Linked DNA regions of Homo sapiens. The protein of the gene in region 2 purifies or fractionates together with the protein of the main gene of each other region. This does not show direct contact. Each region holds a gene or a part of one and is shown on either strand. Other genes may lie near its edges. The genes, in order: SLC30A9 and MTRES1.

What was found.
Region 1: the proteins of MTRES1 (region 2) and SLC30A9 purify together in Homo sapiens (affinity purification with mass spectrometry; one large-scale study listed by BioGRID and IntAct). This does not show direct contact.

What each region holds. Positions count from the first base shown.
Region 1 is NC_000004.12:42,066,707-42,070,529, forward strand, and holds part of SLC30A9 (proton-coupled zinc antiporter SLC30A9, mitochondrial), read left to right. Parts: intron 1-378; coding exon 379-486; intron 487-3,819; coding exon 3,820-3,823. UniProt on the Homo sapiens protein: Mitochondrial proton-coupled zinc ion antiporter mediating the export of zinc from the mitochondria and involved in zinc homeostasis, zinc mobilization as well as mitochondrial morphology and health.
Region 2 is NC_000006.12:107,044,938-107,048,704, reverse strand, and holds part of MTRES1 (mitochondrial transcription rescue factor 1), read right to left. Parts: intron 1-3,767. UniProt on the Homo sapiens protein: Mitochondrial RNA-binding protein involved in mitochondrial transcription regulation. Functions as a protective factor to maintain proper mitochondrial RNA level during stress.

The DNA.
Region 1 (3,823 bases), on a different chromosome or scaffold from region 2:
GAAATGTACAAAATATATCTGAATATCATCCCTGTGTGGCTCTTACATATCCTTCAGCCCTTATTAAAAAGAAATGTAGTATAGAAATTTGAACATGGATACTTTATATTTGGATTTGACTTAAGTGAACTAAGGTATTTCTTTATATGGTTATATAACTTGAGAAAGTAATTTGACTTTATGTATCAGTTATTGTTGACATTTAAGCCAAGAAATTATGTTTGCATTGAGCAAGGTTTTTAAAATCATAATCTCTCATACACTTTTTTATCTTAACTTATATCTTGATTTTAAATGGATACTTATTAAAATGTTACCTGATAGTATCAAGTTAAGATTTTAGAAATTTTCTTGTCTTGTCTCTTCCCCAATGACTAGTAATGGAAAGTCGTGATCCTAGTACAAATGTGATATTATTGGAGGATACTGCTGCAGTCTTGGGAGTTATAATAGCAGCCACTTGCATGGGCCTTACTTCTATAACAGGTAAATATTCCTTAAATTACAGGTGATTTATTTGTCCTACTTAAATAATTCTCTAATATGTGGGAATTTTCTCTTATATCATTGAATAATATTAAACCAACAAATTGTTAAATGTTAATTCCTACTAATCATTGACTTATGTAAGACATTTGGTCAGCAGAAGTATTCAGGTTTATTTGAATTAAAAATGTCTCTAAATTAGAAATAAGGAAGGCTATTTGTAAAGGATTTCTGTAATGCTGTACGTCTTTCTAGCTGTGACTTAAAAAATTGTGCAATCACTCTGAACTTTTTATTTACCTATAAAAGTGTGGATAATATTTACCTTGGTAACCTCTTAGGTTTATTAAGAAAATATGAGAGTTTTAATAAACTCTAAAGTTCCAAATAAATATACATAGGTCCTCAAATAACATTGTTTTGTTCAACTTGATTTTGTTATAACATTGTTGCGAAAAATATCAATTCCTAACTGGAGCTACCATCTCTGTGGAGTTTGCTCATTCTCCTTTTATCTACATAGGTTTTCTTTGGGCACCCCAACTTCCTCCCACATCACAATGCCGTACATGGTCAGTGAATTGGGGTGTCTAAATAGTCCCAATCTGAGTGAGTGTGGGGGTGTGTGTAAGTGTGCCCTGCCATGGGATGGCATCCTGGCCAGGTCTGGTTCCTTCCTGTGTCCTGAACTGCTAGGATAGGCTCAAGTAGATGATAATCAGACAAATGCAGGACAATAACTGATGTATGAAAGCGCTCAGCAAGCCTACATATTTGTGGTTGTTTATTTTTGAATTATGTGGTGATAGGTGTTCCTTACAATTTTCACTTTGCAAACATTTATTCTTTGATTTAACTCACCACCCCTACTATTGCTGATACTCACTGATTCACCAAAAATTGGGTAAATAATTATTTTACATAGTTTTTATTAATTTTTAAAAATGTATATGTAGCCCACATTTATTTCAGTGTTCAATATTAGACATGTTTTGGGTCTTAGAAGTTGAGTGATGTTTTTGTGACCAGAAATATGCCATAGGAACTTAACTCTTTTTTTTTTTTTTTGAGACAGAGTTTTGCTCTTGTTGCCCAGGCTGGAATGCAATGGTGCCATGTCGGCTCACTGCAACCTCCACCTCCCAGGTTCAAGCAATTCTCCTGCCTCAGCCTCCCGAGTAGCTGGGATTACAGGCATGCGCCACCACGCCCGGCTAGTTTTGTATTTTCATTAGAGACGGGGTTTCTCCATATTGGTCAGGCTGATCTCAAACTCCCGACCTCGGGGGTGATCCTCCCACCTTGGCCTCCCAAAGTGCTGGGATTACAGGCATGAGCCACCACGCCCGGCCGGAACTTAACTCTTGTTTGTATCAGTTAGCTTATGGTAAAATTGGTTTTGTTATATGTTGTTCCCTATAAAGTCGCAGTTTCTAAGAACCTATTGACAACATGAATGAGGACTTAACCGTATATTGTGGCTCTTGTTCATTTGTCTTTTTCCACACTTAATGCCAATAATAACTACTGTTGCCTTCCTATTTCTTTAATTCTAAGTTGTTTGTGTCCTTATTTTGGTAGCTAATTAAGTGTTTTGAGGGCCAATAAAATACAAGTAAATGAAAAGACAATTCTATTTTATTTTTATTTTCGAAAACAACCATTTAGCATGAAAAGACTCAATTTATGAAGTTGGAATTCTCTTGGAAAGGAACTTCTTCCATACTTCTCTATTTGTCCTTACATATTTAAAATAATTTTAGGTGACGAGCTTCCACAGTTCTGCAGTGTTTCTTCAAATAGTCTGAAATATGAATACTTCTTTCTCATTCTGAGTGTGCATTTTAATACCAAACTAGCATTCTCTGATGTTTATTGTGATCCAAAATATTTGTAAAAATGTTGATTGTTTTTCTGGTTGACCATATAGTTTTAGACTGTTTTTGAACATAAATTACTAGCAAAATTTTAGGCTTAAGAAAAGTGTGACTTGATGCAGATGTCAACTTTGAATAATTTATTTTCTTTTACATAATAATAGAAACCAATCAAATCAAATTTACAAAAATATGTAATGTGTTTTACATGAATTAAATTTTTCTTAATTAGCTAATTTATTCAAATTAAATTAAATAACATGCCAAGAAATAAAAGTTTTCTTAAAAAAGGTATTTTCTTTCAGCTAATATTCCTGTAATTTCTTTAAGAGTACATGAATGTATATATTTAAATAAAAATAACTCTTCACATTTGGATTTCTAAAGAGCAGTATTTGATTTTGAGCTCTATAATTACAAAACTTCTAATGGATAATGTTTTACAAGCGGATCATTTTTAACACTTAGTATAGATTAACAAGTTTGCTTTTTAGTGTTACAGCTTAGCAAAATATATGTTTTATCAAGCATTAAGAAGAGTTAAATATATTGATGACATTTCATCTTTGGGATAAAAAGACTTGTAGTCATAAAAGCCATGTGTAAAATTTATTATAAAGATTTAAAACGTATTTATTGGTGTCTATTATATAAATATTACCTATACATTCATAGATGATAAATCAGCCTTTCTCATTGGTTCTGGGAGAGAAGCCCTGACAACCTAAGGCAAATATTAGAATCAGAATCACCTGAAGGGCTTGGGGAAACACAGAATGCTGAAACCCACATCCAGAATTTTTTATTCAGGGGCCTGAAATGAGGTCTGAGAATTTGCTTTTCTACCAAGTTTTCAAGTGATGGCTGCTGGTCCAGGAACCACACTTTGAGAAGCACCACCTTGAGGCACCTATGGCATGTAATGAATTAAGTTCTCTCCTTTTTATCTAGAATGATACTAGCTATATATCATCCTTGGTTGGATGAGAAGAGAGTCACCCATATTATTTTCTGTAGGGCTTAATTCTCTTACAGAACATTAGTAGGAAGAAGATACGGAAAAAGGTTTCTTTCAGCTTTTGATTCCACTGTTATTTTGTCTATCTGGTGTAGGAAAAGTGCTATGGATATATCTAAAAGAAATGGACTCTTCATTATGTCATTTTTTTGTATTGGTGTCTCTAATCTAAATGTGCTCAGAAACTTCACATATGTAATGACAGGTACAAGTAAGAGATCTTAATTATGTCACATAGTACTCTTATGAAAGCAAGTTGTAGCATCCTCATTTTGTGGTATATTAAAACTATTAGGAGTTGTTAAAGGAAGTAATTAAAGAAATTAGGAATAAATTTCAAGTGCCTTGATTTACTCGTTCTGGTTCTTTGCTCTCTATAAAGTTCACTGAAATAATATAAACTGTTAATTTACTGATTTTTTTATGTGCTTCATTTAGGCAA
Region 2 (3,767 bases):
AGTTTCAAGTGATTCTCCTGCCTCAGCCTCCCAAGTAGCTGGGACTACAGGGATGTGCCACCACACCCAGCTAATTTTTGTATTTTTAGTAGAGACAGGGTTTCATCATGTTGGCCAGAATGGTCTTGATCTCTTGACCTCATGATCCACCTGCCTTGGCCTCCCAAAGTGCTGGGATTACAAGTGTGAGCCACCGCGCCCAACCCTGGGTTCAATTTTTTAAAATGACTACTTCAGCCTATGTGGACATTTTAAAAAATCCGTCTAGAAATACAGGCCAGGCGTGGTGGCTCACACCTGTAATCCCAGCACTTTGGGAGGCTGAGGGTGGATCACGAGGTCAGGAGTTCAAGACCAGCCTGGCCAACATGGCGAAACCCCGTCTCTACTAAAAATACAAAAATTATCAGAACGTGATGGTAGGTGCCTGTAATCCCAGGTACTCTGGAGGCTGAAGCAAGAGAATCGCTTGAACCTGGGAGGCAGAGGTTGCAGTGAGCCGAGATCGTGCCATTGCACTCCAGCCTGGGCAACAAGAGCAAGGCTGTCTCAAAAAAAAGAAATACAAGGCTTGGGAACTCTGCTTTACCTTTTTGGTATAACCTTATTTCATTCAAATTACTATTTTTAAAGAGATGAGGTCTCACATGTTGCTCAGGCTGGAATGCAGTGGCTATTCATAGGCATAATCATAGTGTACTGTAGCCTCAAACTCCTGGGCTCAACGACACTCCCTCCTCAGCCTCCCAAGTGGCTGCGACTACAGACACACACCAACTTGCTCAGCTAAAATTCTTTTTTTGTTTGTTTTCTTTTTTTGAGATGGAGTCTCGCTCTGCTGCCCAGGCTGGAGTGCAATGGCGCGATCTTGGCTCACTGCAAGCTCCACCTCCTGGATTCAAACGATTCTCCTGCCTCAGCCTCCTGAATAGCTGGAATTACAGGAGCCTGCCACCATGCCCGGGTAACTTTCTGTATTTTTAGTAGAGATGGGGTTTCACCATGTTGGCCAGGCTGGTCTCAAACTCCTGGCCTCAAGTGTTCCACCTGCCTTGACCTCCCAAAGTGCTGGGATTACAGGTGTGAGCCACTGTGCCCGGCCTACAATTCATTTTTAATAAGTAATATATGCATATGATACAAAATTTAGAAGATACAAAAGGGTAGACAAAGAAAAGGTGTATAGGCCAGGTGTGGTGTCTCATGCCTGCAATCTCAGAATTTTGGGAGGCCAAGGTGGGTAGATCACTTGAGGTCAGGAGTTTAAGACCAGCCTGGACCACACAGTGAGACCCTGTCTCTATAAAAAATAAAAAATTAACCAGACGTGGTGGTGTGCCTGTCATACCAGCTACTCGGGAGGCTGAGGTGGGAAGATCACTTGAGCCCAGAAGGTCAAGGTTGCAATGAGCTGTGGCTGCACCACCGCACTCCAGCCTGGGTAACCGAGCAAGACACTGTCTCCAAAATAAAATAAAGAAAAAGAAAAAAAAAATATACAAAGAAAAGGATACTCTGTGTATATCCTTTCATAGAGATACTGTGCATGATGTCTGCCTCTGGATAGAGAAGGCTAGTGTGTGGCTAAAGAATGAATCCCTTTGGCGGGGTGTGGTGGCTCACGCCTGTAATCCCAGCACTTTGGGAGGCCGAGGCAGGTGGATCACAAGGTCAGGAGATCGAGACCATCCTGGCTAACACAGTGAAACCCCGTCTCTACTAAAAATACACACACACACACACACACACACACACACACACACACACACACACAAGAATGAATCCCTTTGGAGCTTCCTTGTAGCACAGAGAAGGGGTGCTCCTCCTTTACCCAACTGATCCCAGGAAGAGATGAGTTTAGGAAGGATTCAATCCCCATACTTGGACACCACACACCCACTGTTTAATCAACAGTTACCCAACACCTACCACACCCTGGGCTTCACCTGGTTTTCAGCTCAAAGAAAAGCTTTGCTGAATCGCAGACAGCCAGGGTTAGAGCTGCAGCATCAGACAAGCACCTGACCCTTCGGGGTCAGCAGCCAGGCACAGGCTCCACAGAGCAGACCAGGGAAGGCGAGGCATTCTTTATTCCCCTCCACGGCCCCTGTCCCTCAGCAGACACAAAGCAAAACTGGCTGGGATTAGGAGCTGTTCCAAATATCTACATTTCAAATCTCTAGTTAGCTGCAGTTTCTATGGCTACCAGGCCTCCTAGTAACAAGACAGCTGAGCGTTAATAATGCCCCCTTCCTTTGCTGACCCTCACAAGAAACATGGAAGGCAGCTGAGACAACAGAACACCCAAGGCAGAATGAAGCAGCAGCAATTAGGCTGTAGTTAACAACATCACAAAACGGGGGCGGGTGGGAGGGGTGTGAGGAAAAATAGTCTAGTGGGGTTTGTAAATGAGGCCCCAGCACAGAGACAGGGTGTTCAGGGAGTAATCATTCTTTACTCCAAGAATACATCTTGTTTTTGGAATACTGCAGCTTAGAAGGAGGGCAGGCTACAGCAGGAAAAAGCTATTCAGAGATGAGAAGGGCTTATGACTGCATGTAGCTCACTGAGCAATAGCTGCTGACAGCCAGCCACAGTCCCAGCCTGCCGGTTCAAGTCAGGGGCATCACCAGGGCCCTGGGACTTGGGGGCTGAGACAGCTTGGGGGAGTTTTCCCTCCTTCTGCCCACAGAGCTACAAGAACCTGCATGATCCCAGTTAGCAAGGACTGCAGGAAGCCTCAGTGCTCACCCAAATGCACGGCTGACAGCCGACAGCCTCAATTTCCCATGTCCTAGGGCAACCGGATGTAGTTCGGATCCTCCAACCCCAGGGGTATTTTGAAATATGAAAGATGAAATGAAAACAATCTCCAAAGTATGTCTAACTTCTCTGGAACCTTTGTTCCCTGAACACTGAGTTAGATTATGTCTTCCAATACCTCGTGTCTTGTGTCTTCCACACTTTTTAAGGGTCTCTGTCATAACTTTTTATTGTGTTTTGTTAACTTTTATTATCAGTATTGTTTTTTCCATTATGAAAGTGATACATACTCATGGTAAAAAAATTCAGAAAATAAAAACTATGAAATTAACATAACCCATAATGCTTCAATTAAAGATAAATGCTAGTAACAGCAGTATTTTAATTCCAGATGTATATATATACGTAACTTACTTTTACAAAAAAATATTTTCTAACAGAATTTTTTTTTTTTTTTTGAGACGAAGTCTCGCTCTGTCGCCCAGGCTGGAGTGCAGTGGCACGATCTCGGCTCACTGCAAGCTCCGCCTCCCAGGTTCATGCCATTCTCCTGCCTCAGCCTCCCAAGTAGCTGGGACTACAGGCGCCCACCACCACACCCGGCTAATTTTTTTTTGTATTTTTAGTAGAGATGGGGTTTCACTGTGCTAGCCAGGATGGTCTCGATCTCCTGACCTCGTGATCCACCTGACTCGGCCTCCCAAAGTGCTGGGATTACAGGTGTGAGTCACTGCGCCCAGCCAGAATTTTTTTTTTTGAGACAGGGTCTCACTCTGTCACCCAAACTGGAGTGCATTGGCATGATTATGGCTCACTGCAGCCTTGACCTCCTAGGCTCAGATAATCCTCCCGTCTCAGCCTCCTGAGTAGCTGGGACAAGCGCCTGCCACCACGCCTGGCTAATTTTTTGTATTTTTTGTAGAGACAGTTTTGCCATGTTGCCCAGGCTGGTCTTCAACTCCTGGGCTCAAGCGATCTGCTGGCCTCAGCTCCCAAAGTGCTGG